Regions from separate parts of the Homo sapiens genome. Here regions 1, 3, 4, 5 and 6 are each reported to be linked to region 2. Evidence: microRNA targets listed by miRTarBase, many of them from high-throughput screens and not tested one by one. Region 2 holds a microRNA gene; each other region holds the end of a gene's coding sequence.

Region 1 (3,442 bases), not on the chromosome of region 2:
TATGCCTTCTGCGGTAAAAGGCACATGATGACTTTTAGGGACAGTTTATTTGGAAGGTTGATAAATGGGGCCATAAGACAGGACTCATCAAATTTCTTTTTTGAGATCTCCCTCTACCTGAAGCATTCCAGCATGACTTGCATTCTGAATACCTAGTTGGAGGAGGTTACAAACAGTTTCAAGCGCCATTTGTTCCCGTTTTGATTCCCCACTCGCTGGGTTATGTGCTGTTAGACATTTCCAGAAGACTGTCAAAATGTAAGCATCCTGAGGTTTACATAGGCCACGCCATTAAATAACATATAAGCACAACATTTTAAACATTGTTTTCCAGCAATGGTAAATATTTTAGCTAAGTAGAAACTAAAGCTTGAAATGCAATAAGCACTTAAATGACTCCTTTCTGTGCCAGAATTCTTATTTTCCTCTGTGCGACCCTGGCTTCTGGGATTAAGGCAACCCCAGGGAGCTCAGCAAATGGTTGTGGGTTACGAGGTGTAGCAGGAGCTTGGCGACAGCATGCCACCCAGCCTCAAGAAACCCAGCCATGACTGGAACCCAAGAATCAGTGTGTTCACTTTGTGGTCAGCTTCACATTTTTCCCCTCCTTGAAAAAAAAAAAAAGCTGCTATGAAAATCAGACCTCTCTCCCAACCCCCAAGGAATCACGTGGTGGACCAGGAGCAGAGTGGAGACTCGGGGCAGGCAGAGCAGAGGAGGCTGGCCCCCTCACGTAGGCAGGCAAGCAGGCAGGCATGTGGGAGTTACCAGCTTCAGTTCCTCAGCCCTACAGAGGGAAACGACCCACGGCACCAACAACAGCCACACCACTGACGACGACAACGGATTGTGCTGTCACCAGAAAGAAGGGAAACCCAGAGCGAATTTTACAGTGGTTTTCACCACACGGTGATTGCAGTCCTGTTCAGGGCATGTCACAGTAACACCACCCACTGAGCAGAACCCAGAGGGAAATTAGGCCTCCTTCAAAGTCTCCCATTACTGCCTATCCCTGAACAGAATAAGGCAAGGATTTTAAGGACACACAGACATGTGGCCCTACCTCCATTGGCTTCCTGGGGCCCCTGGCTTCTTATTCACTAAAGAGAATTGTTCTCAGTGACTGACAAGGCTAAATGAAGACAGGGTGCTCTCTCATTAAATGCAACTGCTCTTTAAGAGGCAGGCAGGGCCATGGACAAGTTATGAGATTTTTGGTCAGTGTTTTTACCAAGAAAACTTGATCTGCCATAAAATCTCAAACAAGTGAAGAAAAGGAATGCAGAGATGCAGGGCCTTTTCTCCACATTCAAAAGACCAAAGTTGGCATGTTTTGTTCTAACACCAACCACATTTCTAACACATATTTGGAGTTCTGTGACTAGTCTCTGAGATTATAATACAGATATTTATCACTTATCACACTGAATTTGGGGAGGGGATTCCCCTTTGGTTTTGTCAAATAATCACAGAAGGAGCCATGTATGTTATCTGTCCTGTTTCTAGTGAAGAAGACAAAGCTCTTCACTCCCCTCCTGACCCTCCCCCTCTAAAAAATCAGCCATTTATGGCGGGTATTGACTCTTGCCAATTTTAAACTGTAACTTCAAATGTCAGCCTGTTGACTTACAGAAACAGACTGACAAATGGCTGTCTGCTATGGAGAAAAACTTTGGAAACTCAAAATGTTCATACAGACTGCCAACAGATTAATTAGTAGCCTCTTTGGAAGCATGATCACGGTCTAAGAATAGCCTTAAATCCTGTTCAAGACTAGCTTCTTTCCCCAAATCATTATAGTGCTAGCCAAATAATAGCAAATGTTAGATACAGTGGTATATGGTTTTGGTGTGTGCAAGAGTCAGACTGGATTAGAAAATACGACTGCCATTTCATACCAGTTTTCATGGCTAAGTTCTACTAAAACTATGTGACCTTCATCATCACAATAAACTGCCGAAAGTGCTGGAATGACTAGAACTAAGGTGTCAGTTTGCTAGTTCTTTGCTTATCTATGGTTAAATACAGTTTCTTGTACTCACTTTGAACCATGAAAATGAGGGAACACATTACCTTGAAAGATACTGAGGATATATCCATGCCAATATGAATAAAATTCCCCTCAAAACAAAACATGTAGGCCAATAATGACAATTACTGTATCCACTCACCATGCAACATGCACAAGACCAAACAACTCAATCACTTTACAAATAGTTTATTTCCACCTTCACAAATTCATGCGCCTCTGACCATTATGCAAGGCAACATGAATTAAATACTTATGTCAGAACATATTTGTCTTACATTATTCAAGATAAAGTGGATTTTAAAAGCAAGTGGGTACCAATGATGGGGAGATGAGGAGAATAGGGCAGGCAGCAACAGGGCAACATGCATTTTTCAAGAGTGTTTATTAAAATAGGCAGTAATCAGTACATGTACATCATATGAGCAGTTTTTCAAAATTAGCACTTCCAGGAGAGGGGCTACATCTCAGTTTTTTCTGTCTGTACAGTAAAATGCCAAAAGTACTTCCCTAAAGTACAAAGGCATTTCCCTAGTAGTCTTGGTACCAGTAACAATATGATTACTAAACATCTCCAATGTGGTTTTCATTACAAAGAAACATGTTTCACATAAAAGCTTCATAATATAATCCAGAGACAGAATTTGTGCATGCTTACAATTTGAAGCCAGGCTGAATATATTTGATATATATTTTTTCATTTCTCCCAGTGTTTTTTATTTTTATAAATATGCACCTAGTTTCCTACCAGTTTAAAACACACACGAAACACTGCTCTGAGCACCATGATTGCCTTACAGTAGCCTCTTTGGGACTACAATCCTAGTTCAAGGAGGGGAGTACTAATTTCTATTCTGACTTGCTCCTTTCCCCAAATCATGTTAGTGTTGACCAAATCCCATCAATTTTCAGATGCAAACAAAGGTTTCTGGGCAGAGGGCCAAATAATAATTATGAATAATTTCACAATGATCTGGTTAAGAAAACACCCAGAAAATGAATGATTTCACATGATAAAAAAGCCTGGACTTGAATTTAAACAAGAGATGGACGTAAAAGGGATGAAGCATTGCTTCATTCCCAGGAGGGATGTTCTTTACTGCAGTACCCACAAAAAGACAGCACTATCCCAGGGCTGATCTTCCTATGGGCCTCCACCAATAGCCTTTGAGGTAGATACTGATGGCTTGAAGAGAGGTAGGTAAAGTCCAAATTTGTTTTCAATCCCTGCAAATGTAGCAACTGCCAGTTTGTAGCCCCCAACGTGATCAGGATTCGGGGCAGGCAGGTTGATCCTGGATTTAGGAACTGGCTCTGATCCCATGGGTTTTCTAAAAGAAGAGAAAACAGAGTAAGAAGCTGTATTTTTTGTTTGTTTTAACTTGATAAAAATAACATTCAAAACCTGTTCAA
Region 2 (3,516 bases):
TTACATGTAATAGGTTTTCATCAGTTTTGATGAAATCATGATGATAATGATTACGATAATGCCTCCCATTATTTTCTCTTTAGTATAAGGCATTTAATGGCTTTTCCTAAAAAATAATGCAAGCAGTTCTTAACCCTAACAATGAGGGATAGAGTAGGTGTCCTTACCTACACTTGTTACTATAAGTGATATATTTATATAAAGAGATGTATGTAAAGGAAATTCATTCACTCATTCATTTATGTACCTAACCATTATTCCTTCATCAGTTCTTGTTAAGCACTTACTATATTAGGCCCTGTATACATTTTACATGAATTATCTCCTAACCTTATAACAATGGTGTGTAAAGAAACTAATATTATCCATTTTATAGATGATAAATTCATGATTAGGGATATTAATTATGATGTCCAAATTTGCACAGGTGGCAAATGATACATTTGAAATCTGAACCCACACAATCTAATTCAAGAGTTACATTGCCACTACTTCAAAAAATGTGGTTTATTTTATAGGCAAAGAAAAGGCACTGAATTGAATATTATGACTAAGCTTGTGATCTTAAAAGATTTAGGTTCTGAGTTGGACCTGATTAAAAATTCCAGCTCCACCAATTACTGATTACATGAACCTGGTGGGAGTTGTTCAGTCTTTCCATACTCCAGGTTCTTCCTTTTTCAACAGTGTTGCTGAGCCATTAAATGAAACAGCTTTATGTAGAAAGCACTCAGCATAGTAAAATCATTATAAATGTTAGCTATTACACACTTACTTCTCTCCTTTTCTGGAGGAAGGGAGAAGATGGGTTTTTATTTTACAATCTTATTTTATAAAACTATAAGCCTGGAGTCTAGGGGGTAATGTAGGAATTGAAATATGAAATGGTTCTGATCTAAGGTAGAAACATTAGATGGATGAAAGAATATCATGCCGATAGAATTAAAAATTGTTAGGTTGGAGTATTTTATGTGGGCTGAGAGTAAAATAAATCTACAATTTGTGTGAGTGGTAGAATGTGAAGCGATTAAATAGGATAGGGAATTGGAAGGGAAGTGCTAGGACAATTCCTGGCACATAGTAGGCATGCAACAAAAGGTTGGAAGCTTGATTGCTGTGATCTGTATGCAAAGATCATATGGTTGCATAAATGTGTTAATATTGTTCTTTGGTAAGTGTTTTCCTGGTATTTAAGTGCAATGGAGCACAAAGGTTTGTTGTCTAAAGTGTAATAATGAAAGGAATATGACCATTACTCCATCTGTCATTTTCACTCATGCCTTTAAATGAGCCCTTTGCTCCAATAAAATGGTTCAGTTAATGGTTCCTTAAAGCCACACACACTTACCTGTCTTTTTGCCTTTGATGAATTTATTGCTTAAGACTTTAGCCAGTATCTCTTTTTGCCCATTCTTTTTATCTGTATTTATTTTTATATGTTTTTTGAGATGGAGTCTCACTGTGTTACCCAGGCTAGAGTGCAGTGGTACGATCTCGGCTCACTGCAACCTCCGCCTCCTGGGTTCAAGCAATTCTCCTTCCTCAGCCTCCTGAATAGGTAGGATTACAGGCATCCTCCACCATGCCTGGCTAAGTTTTGTAATTTTAGTAGAGATGGGGTTTCACCATGTTGGCCAGGCTGGTCTTGAACTCCTGATCTCAGGTGATCCACCCACCTCGGCCTCCCAGAGTGCTGAGATTGCAGGTGTGAGCCACCATGCCCCGCCTCTTTTTGCTCATTCTTTAAAGTAGGAACTTTGGTAGAACTTTCACAGCCTGTAACATATGTCTCTAGCCCTAGCTTGGTTCTAAATCCCATGGTGCCTTCTCCTTGGGAAAAACAGAGAAGGCACTATGAGATTTAGAATCAAGTTAGGACTGCAGATACAGGTTACCTATGTTACAGGCTGACAGCCACAGGTATATTGCTCTCTGCACATGTGTTTTTTCCTGGCCTCTCAATGACATTATAAGCTTCTATTATACCTCATGTGGCGTAACTGCTCTGCAATAATAGAAATTCAATAAAGGACTCTTTAATTTACAATTAAAGTCAGGATTGAATTTTGTGGAAAATCTTGATGCAAATGTACAAAAGAACTTCAAGAAAATTAGAATGCCATGAGTCATGCATTTCCTGGTACTATTCATTCTTCTTTAGGTACTATCATTCTGCTCAACCTAACATTTCTACCACCTACACCTACCATCTGGAATTATAGGCAGAGGGTATGAAGGGTGTCAAATCTTGAAAGAAAATTGCCTTTTCTCCAAAGTTGATGAAACTAAACCACAGTTGATTGGATTACTTGCTCAGCAAGAGAGTAGAACCTTGTCTTTATGAATTAAATGTCACTATTTCGTCTATTTGAAGATGACCTTATAGAGGATCATGGCTTACGACAAGTTATTTTGCTGAGGCTTGAATTTGAATTGTGTGTTGGTGAATGAGGCACTGCACACACAGTCAGAGCAGCTGCTCTCCATGCAGCTTTTCTTCTCTTTGGTTTTCTGTATCATACACAGTAATCCTTGGGTGTTATTCACATCTACTTCTTGTGGAGTAATAGTATATTATAGTGGTATCATAAATTCGGGATTTATGAAAGTTGTGGGACATACCTTCATGTGAATCTCAGTGGGTTACTGTATTTAATGATTTTTTCTCTTTTGTTTTGATTAAGAAGCTCTTTGCTGGGATGCTGAGTTCCGATTTAAATATTATACACCCTTCTTATTTCTCTCTGCAAAATTATAGCCTTGCTGATGAATTTTGCTTTACTCTTGAGTGTGGTTTACTTTTGCAGCAAATACAAATTTAGTAAGTTAAATCTAAAAGCCACAGTTAAACACAGTTCTCCTTCAGAGGTAAGAACCATAACTGTTTCTGTGGACCCCAGCAATGGTACCTTCTTTTACAAAACAATGTTCTTCTTGTTCCATAGTCAATTACACACTGAACCTCTGTGTTATCTGAGATCTAAGCAGCAGGGCTGCTCTCTCCAGAATTATATTCAGCAGCTGTCTCCTCCCTGTTAGCTTACCCATTCCTGATGTGTTGATTCCTTTCAGAAGGCTCCAATCCAAATAAGACTTAATTAGCAGCAGCCTGAAAATAGTGTGTCTGCCTTTCTTTTCCTGTATAAATCTTGTGAGTGCTAAGCTTCTAATTTCACTTTCCTCTTAATACTAACTGAAGGTCCCATAACTTTCTGTGGAATGTTGACTTTTTTTTTGAGTGAGATGAGCTCTTCTCATGCCAGTTAACTCTCATGTCGGTGACAGCACAATGGAGAAATATTAGGAAATCTGACAGGGAGAAACATTCATGTCTGATAGAGTCCAGCAACAGATTAGTGAAAGAAACTGGCCGTCCAAAATCATCCTCATTCATTTCCTTCACTAAGTCAAAGAAATCATTGTGCTCTGCTTAAGCCCCATGCTGAGTTCATTTTACTGACCCTTCCTTAATATTGGCTGAAGGGTATTTTTAATAACTTGGTATGTTTGGGAGTC
Region 3 (3,516 bases), not on the chromosome of region 2:
GAAAGTAACAAGGAACAAGAAGGGGAGATTGTTAGCCTGATGCTTATTGAATATAAAGGGCTTACCAGTTCCTATTGAACTGTTCCTCAAGAAAACCCAAGTATAGAGAAAAGGAGAAGAAAGTGCATATTTCTCTGTCACAGTCTCATGTTTAAGTATTTTTGTTATTATCTTTCGTAATCATGCTGAATGCCATGGTAGCATTTATCTGTTCTTATACTTAAACCGGGATGCTAACGGTCCCTCAAAAACTGAGAATGAGTAATTAGTTTATAAAAGATCAAAGATAGGAGGCCTAGCTCCAGATGTTTCTGAGGAAGTAGCCACAATCACCAAATACAGAGGAACTACAGAGATTTGAGGGATGAATAAAAAGTCTTTGTTAAGCAGATGCTATAAAGATGAGCAGGAAATCATATTTTATATTAACTTAGCAAGTAAAGTAAGTTTTAAACCCAGATGTTTTATGTCAACAACAAATGAATCAAAAATAATTTTTGTTGAGCTATCAGACTGAGGAGGATTTAAATTGTACTATGTTTACCTTAATTGTAAAAAGCAAAGTGCAAGATGAATATTAACCCCAAAAGCTTTTATTTTGCAGATATTCAGGAGCAGCATGTGGACTGGCCTTTGTATTCATATACCCATCTCTCATCTATATAATTTCCCTCCACCAAGAAGAGCGTCTGACATGGCCTAAATTAATCTTCCACGTTTTCATCATCATTTTGGGCGTGGCTAACCTGATTGTTCAGTTTTTTATGTGAAATACCTCAACTGTTTTTTTCAAGAGCTCTCATGATATTTTGAGCCTTGACAACAGTTCTATATAAATTCACTTGTAAATGCTGCTGTTGTGTAATTCTAAATATTTTCTAAGATAATTTGAAAGCAAGGGAAATAGTGGCCCCTTAATGAGTATTTTTTTATTGGGGTGGGGAAAGGGGCAAAAAGAATGATCTTAGTGTCTTTACCTTTCTCATATTAACTCACCTCTTTATTCTGTGGTCTTTTCTGAATAGAAATGTATGCCCTAGGAAGAAATCATGCTGGGTTTTGCTTTTAGAGATAAAAGGTGGTGGATTTATTTTGCCTGCAGTAAAGATTCTCAGGGTGTCAGAGCAGCATATTGTCAAATCCTGCTTCTGTTTTATGTTTCAGTGTATTCACTTTCATTTTCTTACTTACTAGACCATTTCTGCAGTTTGCCCAAACCTCTACTGTTTGGGACAGTAAGCCAAATACCTCATTTTTAAAAAGAAGTTTTCATGGCATCAGTGTTAATAAAGTACATTTTTAACTGAGTCTTAATCTCTATTTGAAGAAAAAGTAGAGACAAAAGTAATGTCAATGTAATCCCCAGGATCATGAAATGTATACAAAATAAATAAAGTAGGAGAGTTTGTTGCTGTCTAACTCCTCTTTTATTTCTAATCCAGTACCAGTGACTTAGATCGAAATTACAGTTCCCCAAGCCAGACTTTGCATAAGAACAAGAATGATTGTCCCCATAGACCCAGGGGGTGCTTTTGCTTTTTGGATCCCTGAGATCCCAGCGTAGGCTGTCATGATGGACCCAGTGGGGAAAGCATGGCAGAGAGGAGCCTGAGAGGCCCATAGGGGAGACGGCGAACAGAGAAGGGGCCAGGGAGGAAGAGGCCTCAGCCCAGCATATTTTGTGTCCTCTGGGGGTGGACTGGTTTCTGCACCACAAAAAAGGATTGATTTTGTTTGAGGTATGACCTTCAGAAAGAGACCTCCATCTGCTTACTTCTGTAACTGGCAGTACTGTTACAGGAAAGGGGTCCTGATCCAGACCGTGAGAGAAGGTTCTTGGATCTTGCGCAAGAAAGAATTCCAGGCAGGTCCACAGAGTAAAGTGAAAGCAAGTTTATTAGGAAAGTAAAGGAATAAAAGAATGGCTACTCCATAGACAAAGCAGCCCCGAGGGCTGCTGGCTGCCCATTTTTATGGTTATTTCTTGGTGATATGCTAATCAAGGGGTGGATTATTCATGCCTGCCCCTTTCAGACCATATAGGCTAACGTCCTGACATTGCCATGGCATTTGTAAACTGTCATGGCGCTGGTGGGGGTGTAGCAGTGAGAAGACCAGAGGTCACTCTCATTGCCATCTTGGTTTTGGTGGGTTTTAGTCGGCTTCTTTACTGCAACCTGTTTTATCAGCAAGATCTTTATGACCTGAATCTTGTGCCGACCTCCTGTCTTATCCTGTGACCTAGAATGCCTTAACCATCTGAGAATGCAGCCTGGCAGGTCTCAGCCTCATTTTACCCAGCTGCTATTCAAGACAGGAGTTGCTCTGGTTCACATGCCTCTGACAGTACAGAGTTAAAACCCTGTGAGAAAAACTCCTTAAATCTGAGAAAAAGATTAAGGAATCTGGATCCTTGGAATCGACGCTCTTCCCTTATTTCTTCTGAACTAAAAGCTAAACTAGTATCCACATTCACGTTTTCCAAGTAATACAGCCTCTGTGTCCAGGTCAGGATACAACATGGTGATTTTTTTTTTCTGAAAAAATTAGATTTCTCTAATTTTAAGCTAAAGTTTAAAAATCTATTGTATGTTCACCTCTCAGATAGTGTATGGATTTGTGTTATTTCCTTCCTTTGAAAAAGAAAAATGGTTTTTGCAAACCTAGTAAGGAGCCCAGATTCAAGATCAGCCTTAATTTCTTTCAGCAAAGCTTTCTGTCCTATTCATAAAGCCATAGACCTATATTAATGATGAACTGTATTTCCTAAAGCTCGTTTGTTTTAATAAAAAGTCTCATTATGAAAATCTCAAGCCCACACAAAAGTAACATGGAGTAATACGGTGAACCTCACAATGCCTATCCCCTAGATTAATAATTATAAAACTTGGCTGTATTTGCTTCACCTATCTTTTTTTTTCTTTTCCACTGAAATATTGTCAATCTCAGATGTTATTTCATCACTACAAACCTTAATTTACAGCTATTAGTAATAGCCTTTTGAACATAGTTACATTGATGGAAATAGTCTCAAAAGTTTTTGTTCACATAAATTGCTGGTAGTAGGAGTTCGGTTAATTGGAAAATTCTGCAGTAGGTGTCAGATCACTGTGTTAATTTCTCTTAGAAAAGGAGTATAATGAATGGAGAAAGTGCTTCTCTGTGCTTGAGAGCCCCTGAATCTTTATGACTTCAGAATCTTATTCAGTTAAGAGACATAGGATTCAAAAGCCAGACAGCACTGGGAGCGATCTAGGCTTAATCCCAGTTTATCCCCAGTCACCTTCCTTCTCTGTAAAAACTTCAGAAACAGGGCTGGGCACTGTGGCTCATGCCTGTCATCCCAGTTCTTTGAGAGGTGGAGACAGAGTTTCATTGCCACTTTTCAATAATGTACTTGAATGTTTTAACACATGGAAAAAATGATTTAATATATTTTTGTCCATTTAATGAACTAAGTGAATATGACAATGAATGAGGTATTTACTAAACTAAAAGACAATGTGAATCTTTGCT
Region 4 (3,516 bases), not on the chromosome of region 2:
AAAAGATAATATTGAAAACTCAATGTAGTTTTACCTTTGAACTCAGTGTCTCTGAATAATACTAACTCTTGAATGGAGTTCAAAATTAATTTTACTTATTATGCACGGCAGTGAATCACATAGTAACAACACTCCAGTATATTTTGTCTTAGATTTTACATTTTACCACTGGGACAGAGGTCTAGTATGATAGTGCTACTTTTCAGAAAAAGCCATTTTGTCTGTGTATAGTTACCATTCAAATAGCCTATATCTCTTAGATTTGCATTAAGAACCTCATAGAGCTTTAAGGGAGAATTGGAGCAATTAGATGAATGAATTATATTTATTTTTATTACTTGTTATAGGTTTGGCAGTTCTCTACCAGTGGACCAATCTTTTCATCCCCGTGTACCTCACCATCAGAGCAAAAAATATTTTTTGGTTCCCATGATTGCTTTATCTACTGTTGTAACATGAAAGGTCACCTGCAGTGGAAATTTGAAACTACTTCAAGGGTCTATGCAACACCGTTTGCTTTCCATAACTACAATGGCAGCAATGAAATGTTGCTGGCAGCAGCATCTACTGATGGGAAAGTGTGGATCTTGGAATCTCAGAGTGGACAATTGCAAAGTGTTTATGAACTTCCTGGAGAAGTCTTCTCTTCTCCTGTGGTCCTGGAATCAATGCTCATTATTGGGTGTAGAGATAATTATGTTTATTGTCTGGATTTATTGGGTGGCAATCAAAAATAATCAAATACAGTCCTTATTTGTATAACAAATGTGAGATATTTGAAAATATTTTACCATTATACATCATGTGGACTTATTTTATATTAAAGAAGATTATATTTTGGCTAAGAAACGGAAACTTGTCTACACTTGATTAGAGAACAACTATATTTTACTTCCCATAGGAACGACAGAAGCTTTTACAAGGAGTTAGAGAACAAAACACATCAATATAATTAGTAGCACTTTTGTTTAATTAGGTGTGATGGTTAACTTTATTTATATGTCAGCTTGACTGGCTAAGGGATGCTCAGATGATTGATAGCTGGTAAAACATTATTTCTGGGTTTGTCTGTGAGGCTGTTTCTGGAAAAGATGATTAGCATTTGAATTTGAATCAGTAGACTGAGTAAAGAAGGTCCTCCCTCACCAGTGTGCCAATGTGGGTGGCATCGTTCAATCTGATGAGGGCCTGAATAGAATGAAAAGGTAGAGGAGGGGCAAATGCTGTCTTCTTGCTGAGATGTATCCATCTGCTCCTGCCCTTGGACATCAGGGCTCCTGGTTCTGAAGCCTTTAGACCACTCTCCTGGGTCTCCAGCGTGCAAATGGCAGATGGTGGTACTTCTCAGCCTCCATCATAATCACTTAAGCCAATTTTCATAATACATCATCTCTCCTAATCGCTAGGTTTCTATGGAGAACCCTAATACATTAGGCTAATTTTATGTTTTTTTCTTTAAAAAAGCAAGATCCCAGCTGGGGGGCCGGGGGGAGAAACAGAATATACTTACTTGGTGGGTTAAAAACAGTCTTTATTACATGAATTTGTCATTCATGGCAAAAGGTTTTCTAAGGCAGGATCTAGTTATTGAATTATGTTCCTTAGTTATTTTTAAATGAAGTACTAATGTAGAATAAAATAAACACACATATATCACACCCCCCACATAGTACAATTTCATGGTTATACATGGTGATTTCAGGCATTCATTGTTCCTAGCAATGCCCTTTCCTTAAAATTTTGATCTTTTGCGGGCAGCCAAGATGGCCGAATAGGAACAGCTCCGGTCTACAGCTCCCAGCGTGAGTGACGCAGAAGACAGGTGATTTCTGCATTTCCATCTGAGGTACCGGGTTCATCTCACTAGGGAGTGCCAGAGAGTGGGCGCAGGACAGTGGGTGCAGCACACTGCGTGAGCCGAAGAGGGTGAGGCATTGCCTCACTCGGGAAGCGCAAGGGTTCAGGGAGTTCCCTTTCCTAGTCAAAGAAAGGGGTGACAGACGGCACCTGGAAAATCGGGTCACTTCCACACTAATACTGCGCTTTTGCAACGGGCTTAAAAAAAACGGCGCACCAGGAGATTATATCCCACACCTGCCTCGGAGGGTACTACGCCCACGGAGTCTCGCTGATTGCTAGCACAGCAGTTTGAAATCAAACTGCAAGGCGGCAGTGAGGCTGGGGGAGGGGCACCTGCCATTGCCCAGGCTTGCTTAGGTAAACAAAGCAGCCGGGAAGCTTGAACTGGGTGGAGCCCACCACAGCTCAAGGAGGCCTGCCTGCCTGCCTCTGTAGGCGCCACCTCTGGGGGCAGGGCACAGACAAACAAAAAGACAGCAGTAACCTCTGCAGACTTAAATGTCCCTGACAGCTTGGAAGAGAGCAGTGGTTCTCCCAGCATGCAGCTAGAGATGATCTGAGAACAGGCAGACTGCCTCAAGTGGGTCCCTGATCCCTGACCCCCGAGCAGCCTAACTGGGAGGCACCCCCCATTAGGGGCAGACTGACACCTCACACGGCCAGGTACTCCTCTGAGACAAAACTTCCAGAGGAACGATCAGACAGCAGCATTCGTGGTTCACGAAAATCCGCTGTTCTGCAGCCACTGCTGCTGATACCCAGACAAACGGTCTGGAGTGGACCTCTAGCAAACTCCAACAGACCTGCAGCTGAGGGCCCTATCTGTTAGAAGGAAAACTAACAAACAGAAAGGACATCCACACCAAAAACTCATCTGTACATCACCATCATCAAAGACCAAAAGTAGATAAAACCACAAAGATGGGGAAAAAACAGAGCAGAAAAACTGGAAACTCTAAAAAGCAGAGCGCCTCTCCTCCTCCAAAGGAACACAGTTCCTCACCAGCAACAGAACAAAGCTGGACGGAGAATGACTTTGACGAGTTGAGAGAAGGCTTCAGACGATCAAACTACTCCGAGCTACAGGAGGAAATTCAAACCAAAGGCAAAGAAGTTAAAAACTTTGAAAAAAATTTAGACAAATGTATAACTAGAATAACCAATACAGAGAAGTGCTTAAAGGAGCTGATGGAGCTGAAAGCCAAGGCTGGAGAACTACGTGAAGAATGCAGAAGCCTCAGGAGCCGATGCAATCAAATGGAAGAAAGGGTATCAGCCATGGAAGATGAAATGAATGAAATGAAGCGAGAAGGGAAGTTTAGAGAAAACAGAATGAAATGAACAAAGCCTCCAAGAAATATGGGACTATGTGAAAAGACAAAATCTACGTCTGATTGGTGTACCTGAAAGTGACAGGGAGAATGGAACCAAGTTGGAAAACACTCTGCAGGATATTATCCAGGAGAACTTCCCCAATCTAGCAAGGTAGGCCAACATTCAGATTCAGGAAATACAGAGAACACCACAAAGATACTCCTCGAGAGGAACAACTCCAAGACACATAATTGTCAGATTCACCAAAGTTGAAATGAAGGAAAAAATGTTAAGGGCAGCCTGAGAGAATGGTCGGGTTACCCACAAAGGGAAGCCCATCAG
Region 5 (3,516 bases), not on the chromosome of region 2:
ATACACAGATAACTAAAAGAGTCCACAGACTCTAGCAAATGAGGGGGTGTGAGGCCTGAGAGCACACACCACAAACCAATTGGGAAAGAACAGCCTTTACAATGGTGTTGGGATAACTGTTTCAACCACATGAAAAAAAAAATTAAATTCTTACCTTATACTATAAAAAGCAAATTTCAATTTCAAGATTTGACATTCAGAAGTTCTCAAAAACTGTAAGAAGACATTACTGTATGACCTCATGGTAGAGAAGTCTTCTTAAAGATACACACCAAAAAAACCCCATAAAGGATAAGGTATATTGGTTTGTCTTAAAAATTAAGAACACATATTAAAAAAATGCATCATAGGCCAGGCACGGTGGCTTATGCCTGCAATCCCAGCACTTTGGAAGGCCAAGGCAGGTGGATCACCTGAGGTCAGAAGTTCAAGACCAGCCTGGCCAACATGGCGAAACCCCGTCTCTACTAAAAAAAAAAAAAAGGCCAGGCGTGGTGGTGCATGCCTGTAGTCCCAGCTACTCAGGAGGCTGAGGCACAAGAATTGCTTGAACCCGAGAGGTGGAGGTTGCAGTGAGCCAAGATCACGCCATTGCACCCCAGCCTGGGCAACAGAGAGAGACTCTGTCTCCAAAAAAAAAAAAAAAGAAAAAAAGCAAAGAAAATAAAAACTGAATATACCTAAATGCCCACTAATAAACAAAAATGTGCTATATTTAATAGAATAGAGTGGTTATAATTAACTAGATCTATATATATCAACACAGAGATGCCTCCAAGACATAAGTAAAAATAAAGAACACAGATGGCTTGATATTTATTTTTAAAGCACCAAAACAGTACCATCTCCTTCCAGACACTAGGTGAAAATATAAGGAACAGATGAACATTGCAAGCAGATGAACAGGTGAACATATACACAGACTCACTGCAGTGGCTGCCTCTGGAGGGAACAGGACTGTGAGAGCTGGTTAAAGAGAACTCTACTTTTATCTTTATGTTTTGTTTCTTTAAAAAAAAAAGTGGAAAGATGACTTCAGTATGGTGGGAATGGAGATAATTATTGTCTGTCCTTTTTGCTTATTTTTCAAATTTTTATTTACAGTATACTTCCTCTGATGCTCAAACACGTGCCCTGTTTCAATACTGGTAGAAAACTGGTAGTGCTAGACACACTAAGAACAATATAATACTGAATTTTACATATGATTTAAAATGATGTCAAAGTAAATTTTGACTATATGTGACTATAGCCTTAACTGACAACTTTAGTATTAACCCTCTTTAAAGTTGAGACTCACAGCATTTAGCAACATGGTGACTTAAAAGCGAACTACATGTAGAACAGTTTCTTCATTTAGATAAAGATTTCTGAAAGACCAATCTTGTGTATAAAATTAAGTTAATCAAAATCCCTTTTCTCCAGTGCCATCTGGTGGAAAGAAGAGGCAACCTCACCTGTACCTGCCACAAAATAACCACAGCTGTGGTTATCAGAGCAACATTCTCTCCCCCCCAACCACCCCGCCTTCCCTGCCCGCAGAGCACCCTCTGTCATCCCCTCTGTCACCTAGGCTGGAGTGAAGTGGTGCGATCTCGGCTCACTGCAACCTCCACCTCCCGGGTTCAAGCGATTCTCCTGCCTCAACCTCCCAAGTAGCTGGGATTACAGGCGCCTGCTACCACGCCTGGCTTTTTTGTATTTGTAGTAGAGACAGGGTTTCACCATTGTTGGCCAGGCTGGTCTAGAATTCCTGACCTTGTGATCCGCCCGCCTCAGCCTCCCAAAGTGCTGGGATTACAGGTGTGAGCCACTGGGCCCGGCCCAGAGCACCATTCTTTACAAAGAAGGCCCCTCTTTTATTCTGATTACTGTGTGGTGTTCTGTTAACTGTTTACTTTCTTTAGAGCCTTCCTCAAACTGGAAATTCTTCAGCCTACAGGTTAGATAAGAAGCAAGTGGATATTCTTCATTTTTTTGGCTTTCCTGGTTTCCATTGACTTGACTTTGGCAAGGCATTATTTAGAAAAGGCTGTTCTTCTATCTTCTGCTCCAAGATTCTTTCTTTACTGTATTTAAATCAAATGTTTTAACTTCTTCCCCCAGACCATTCTGCAATCATAATCTGTATTCATCCACATTTCAAGCCCTCTAGAATAAAAAATTCCAATAGTTGATTTATACGTAAAACATGTTAGTGTTATTTTGCTTTACATAAACTTATAAGGATTTTTTATTTAAAGGATTTAAAAATATAACACAGTCAATATAAACATGTACTGGGAATTATAAACCATTCTTTCTTCTAAGCACTGGATGAGATACTAAAAACATACAGTATCTTACCAATAGCCATTAAAATAGGCTAAAATGAAAAAGAAACCGTTGTAACAAGGTTACTAATCCCCCAACTTTCAATGCTGAGTTCCTTCATCATCCATGTGCAATCCAGAGATGACATCTAGCAGGGTGGTAAAATTATTCTGGAAAATGCCAACTGTACTTGGACAAAATAAGTTAATTCTATATGGTTGTCCATTAAAGTTTTATGTGGCTATGGTTCCACTGGAGCTAAAAATTGGCTTTTAACTGTTTCCAAATCAGAACTAGCAGAGGAGAGAAGTAAATAAAGCCAATGGCACTCCCTTCAGAGGCTCAAAATGGTTAGATTTTGATGCAGATTTAACCTTAGCGAGTTTCAGTCAGTCCATTTAGATGATCCTGTAGGTTCATACAAATACACTGAACCGTTGGTTTAACTTCTCTTCCTTCCTCAAAGTTTATGATAAAGAGACTCATCCCTGTATTGGGAGTGACTGACATAAGTTCAGATCTGCTCAGAGTGGCTGGTAAGGAACACTTAAGGTCAGTCAGAAAATAATCAAACAGACTTCTCATGTAAGCACCGTGACTCACAACTAAGACACTGGCTGCTAATCCTGGAATACCGCTGTCTGAATTAACTTTAGAGCTGTGATTTTTTCCTAAAGGAAATATCTCTGCCAAAGAAGTTTCCAGACAGTTGCTTGGAGATCCTTGGGAAAACTGTTCTTTTTGATCCGCTTCTTTCAGGATTAGTTGACAAAGAAATTCAAAAAAGTCTATTCCACGCATTTTCACCTACAAGAAAAGAAATAAAAGTCAAAATAAAGTGACATTAATGACTTCCTTAAAACGTTAACATAGAACATAACTGACTGGATTTTTTTCTAATATTGAATGCCAAGTACTACACAAGCAGAAGAATATCAATCTACATTTCTATTCGTTCAATCAGTAGTTTCATGGACATATATAAGTATCCACCACATTTCTGGAATTACAAAAGCACCATGGAGACCAAGATGAAGAAGATCCAATTCCCAATTCCTGAGTTCAAAGCACTCACGGTCTAGTTAGGGAAATCTACAAGCCAACAGAAACTCATAAAACAGTGCTAACCAGGAAGCTGTCTCTGGCACTTCAGTGCCACTGGAACAACAGCAGCAACAAATCCTTCCCTTACTAAAGTAATGG
Region 6 (3,000 bases), not on the chromosome of region 2:
ATCAAGATGACACACCCGCTGCACACTTCTCTTAGAAAGTCACGACGCACAGTACTGTGCGTCACAGGTATTGAGAAACACCACCATAGAGTCAATTGACTTTGTTTAACCTATAACCTTTTTTCCTCCCACATAGTAGGTAGTAACATCACACGGAAACAGTGCTCTGAAGACATTCTGGACACATCGTATACAGCACAGCCATTCAAATCAACGGCAACAGAACGCACGAAGAACCTGGTTTTCTTTCAAAGCATGAGCAGTTCTCATTTTACAACATGTGTTTTAACATAATTCAGAAAGTGCAATCTTTGCATGACAACCAGATAATTCTCAAAGGTTACTAGTGAGCTGATAAAATTAACGTTTGGCAAGGAGGTCATGGTTTACAGGTAGGCTGTCCGCTCACCAATGCTCAGAAAAATTCAGCAGAACATACTTTTCATATTTAGATCCGAAGAGAGGTGAGAGACATTCTACTCAAGTCATGGCTGGGCTTTCTGTCCTCAAACGAAATTGGGCAGGCCATTTGCGTGGTTTCTCTGGATAAGTTCCATTTATTAATCATTGTACAAAAAAATCTTGGCATTCATTTGAAGAGAAAAGAAGTTGCTATATCCAAATATTTAACATTTTAACATTGTGAAAGTTCAACGTTTATAACAGGGCTTTTTAAAATGGAGAAAAGTTTTGGAAAATTTTTAAAAAGAAACTTATGATTTATTAGAGTACAGGATCCAAAACACGTTTTTAGAAAAATATAAAGTGCCCAAATACCAACTTACACAGGTGATACAGGCTTCCTGGAGCCCCATGAAGCATTCATGAAGAAAGACATTTAAAAACAGTCTAGATACATATGTACAGCTGGGTCAGTAAAGGTAAAACCATCTTTCTTGACTTTGATGTGTCTAAGAAAAAAGGAAATCAATCAAACCAGAAAACCAACAATTGCAACTCTCAGCATGCTCAGGTTCTTATTAATGCATCTCATTCATATTAATTAATTCCGTATTATCAAACTTTCCCCTTTAAATGAAAGTAGTGTACAATCCTCCCAACCTTGGCGGGCCAGGTGCTGTGAGTGGTTACGTTTCCAGATGCAGGTTCAAATCCTTTGACTTTGGATTTGACTGATGAGGAACATGGACAGTGGATTAAATAGCTCATTCAGGCTGGAGGAGCCAGGGGCCAAATCCCCATCTCTTTCTAGTAACTGCTTAAAGCCTTCCCTTGCTATGAAGTGGTCTCAGGTGGCTTTCCAAACCTTGGTCACCCCAGGGTTTCCAAAGGGTAAACAAGCAGCAGGCATTCAACATGGGTGAGAATACTGCATGCAGATGGACAGACAGGTGCAGAGACAGGCCCCTAACGCCCCATTCACTAGAGCAACTGCATTATTTTAAATGTTGAGAGCAAAGTAACTAGGTCCTAACTTCGGAAGTTAGCTTCTATCGATTAATGACAAGATTAGCTCGCTTGAGAACTGGCAGGCCGAGAGTTGGTGGAGCTCCAGAGCTGCACAAAGGCGTGCAGTTACTCTGGGCTCAGTTACTGAGAACTTCGGAAAGGAGCCAGTGCCGTCCGAACACACGGTCAGGCTTTCCCAGAAGACGCCACAACAGGCTTCGTCCTGCTGCCGTCAGGACCCTGGCGGCTTGGAAAAGCAGATTCCAACACGCACATCTCCTTTCACACAAGTCCAACACTCTTCAAATGAAAGACATTCTCTCTCTTTCTAACCTGCCACATTCAAACAGGCCTTGAAGTGACTCTAAGGAATAACAAGAGGTGTGAAACCACTTTTTTTCCCTTCAAAACCTTTTTTTTTTTTTTTAAGGTTCATTAATTTTTTTTTTTCCTGATTACAAAAGCAAAACCTCATTTTTTGGTCTTTGAAGACCATGGAGTATGACTTCTAAGAGCAAACATTAACATCAGATTTGTATGTCTCACTACAAAAAGAACCCATCACTGATGTAAGACCTACTCATGATACTGAAGTAGATTTTTTAAATTAAAAAATAAAAGTAGTCATTTAAAATGGAGGAATTGTAGATGAGTATGGAAAAATCCATTCACAAAGTTCACTATTTGCATTTTCTAAAAGAATTTTATGTAATAAAATAGAAAACTAATGATTTATAGAGATGTGCATAAACTCAAGAGAGGAATATGGAAGGGAAAACTGTGTTATATTCCCATTTAAATTTAAAAAAAAAAGATAAAACACTTGAAATCTGTGTTTCACATATTAGAAAAAAATAAATTCAAATGATTCTAATTACCATTAGCTTGTTAATGTCTCCATCTCTAAGATGCTGCCAAGATAGCACACAACTTTACCTCTGAATATGCAACTAACTTCAGGGTAAAAAGACACACAGTCCTCACTCGGGACCGAACACGTTCCACAGAGAAATCAGAAGGAAATTATTGCAAATGCATAACCCCATCTGTCCAGCCAAGGAAATGTTCTGAGACAAATGCAGACAGACAGGGGAATGGAGTGAATACAAAGAATGATTACAGGAGCGTCGACTGTGAGACCTCATGAAGACAGAATGTCACAAACTGTCACCACAGGACAAGCATACAAGCCATGCCACTGACACAGTGCCTTTCAGATTAATTCACTAGTGTAGGCGGAGAGCAACATTGTCTTTGCAGCTGGGGAAGAGCACACGGTATTTAAACTTAGTAGGAGGCAACCAGCACTACTGGTGGAGTGGCTTTCCTGGTGCAGCAGGTCCCGAGGGCTCCGTGGAGACGTCTTCTTCCGGAGTCCCGTTCTCTTGGAAGATAGCAGCAGCAGCAAAGGTGCAATGTCCTCTCTAGACTTTACTCATCTATGTTCTCTTTCTTTGCACTGTAAATATTCTGCACCGTTTCATAGACAAACTCCAGATCTTCTGGATACCGGATCTCCAGCTCTGCGTTTGGGATGTAGTGAGTGCCAGTAAACTCTGAGAAATAGCGTCCCACGTCAGGGTGTGAGAT

What was found. The annotated mature microRNA hsa-miR-605-5p reads UAAAUCCCAUGGUGCCUUCUCCU and lies in region 2 at 1,810-1,832, shown strand. An mRNA with a match to its seed (bases 2 to 7 or 8) in the 3' UTR can be bound and repressed. Matches are read on the target gene's strand: a 7mer-m8 pairs with bases 2 to 8, a 7mer-A1 pairs with bases 2 to 7 and ends in A, and an 8mer does both.
Region 1: miRTarBase lists SLC25A13 as a target of hsa-miR-605-5p. Seed matches in the 3' UTR shown: 7mer-m8 at 2,923-2,929.
Region 3: the mRNA of SLC38A9 is a reported target of hsa-miR-605-5p. Seed matches in the 3' UTR shown: 7mer-A1 at 1,084-1,090.
Region 4: miRTarBase lists AASDH as a target of hsa-miR-605-5p. The part of its 3' UTR that is shown has no 7-base or 8-base seed match.
Region 5: miRTarBase lists TIGAR as a target of hsa-miR-605-5p. Seed matches in the 3' UTR shown: 7mer-m8 at 1,409-1,415.
Region 6: the mRNA of FBXO21 is a reported target of hsa-miR-605-5p. Seed matches in the 3' UTR shown: 7mer-m8 at 1,194-1,200.

The regions. Positions count from the first base shown.
Region 1 is chr7:96,118,018-96,121,459 of GRCh38, forward strand. SLC25A13 (solute carrier family 25 member 13) reads right to left here. Exons shown (of 18, transcript NM_014251.3): 18 at 2,203-3,360. The coding sequence ends at 3,174. Among named protein-coding and RNA genes, the nearest start is that of MIR591, 100 kb to the right of the region's middle.
Region 2 is chr10:51,297,779-51,301,294 of GRCh38, forward strand. MIR605 (microRNA 605) reads left to right here and starts at 1,795; the gene lies at 1,795-1,877. All of the region lies in intron 2 of PRKG1 (protein kinase cGMP-dependent 1), which reads left to right.
Region 3 is chr5:55,623,748-55,627,263 of GRCh38, reverse strand. It overlaps SLC38A9 (solute carrier family 38 member 9), which reads left to right. Exons shown (of 16, transcript NM_173514.4): 16 at 605-1,416. The coding sequence ends at 770. Among named protein-coding and RNA genes, the nearest start is that of SLC38A9, 87 kb to the left of the region's middle. RefSeq lists an enhancer at 1,108-1,922.
Region 4 is chr4:56,335,623-56,339,138 of GRCh38, reverse strand. It overlaps AASDH (aminoadipate-semialdehyde dehydrogenase), which reads left to right. Exons shown (of 15, transcript NM_181806.4): 15 at 348-849. The coding sequence ends at 737. Among named protein-coding and RNA genes, the nearest start is that of AASDH, 50 kb to the left of the region's middle.
Region 5 is chr12:4,351,864-4,355,379 of GRCh38, reverse strand. TIGAR (TP53 induced glycolysis regulatory phosphatase) reads right to left here. Exons shown (of 6, transcript NM_020375.3): 6 at 1-3,120. The coding sequence ends at 2,689. Among named protein-coding and RNA genes, the nearest start is that of FGF23, 26 kb to the left of the region's middle.
Region 6 is chr12:117,143,246-117,146,245 of GRCh38, forward strand. It overlaps FBXO21 (F-box protein 21), which reads right to left. Exons shown (of 12, transcript NM_015002.3): 12 at 1-3,000. The coding sequence ends at 2,842. Among named protein-coding and RNA genes, the nearest start is that of TESC-AS1, 45 kb to the left of the region's middle. RefSeq lists enhancers at 1-746, 147-226.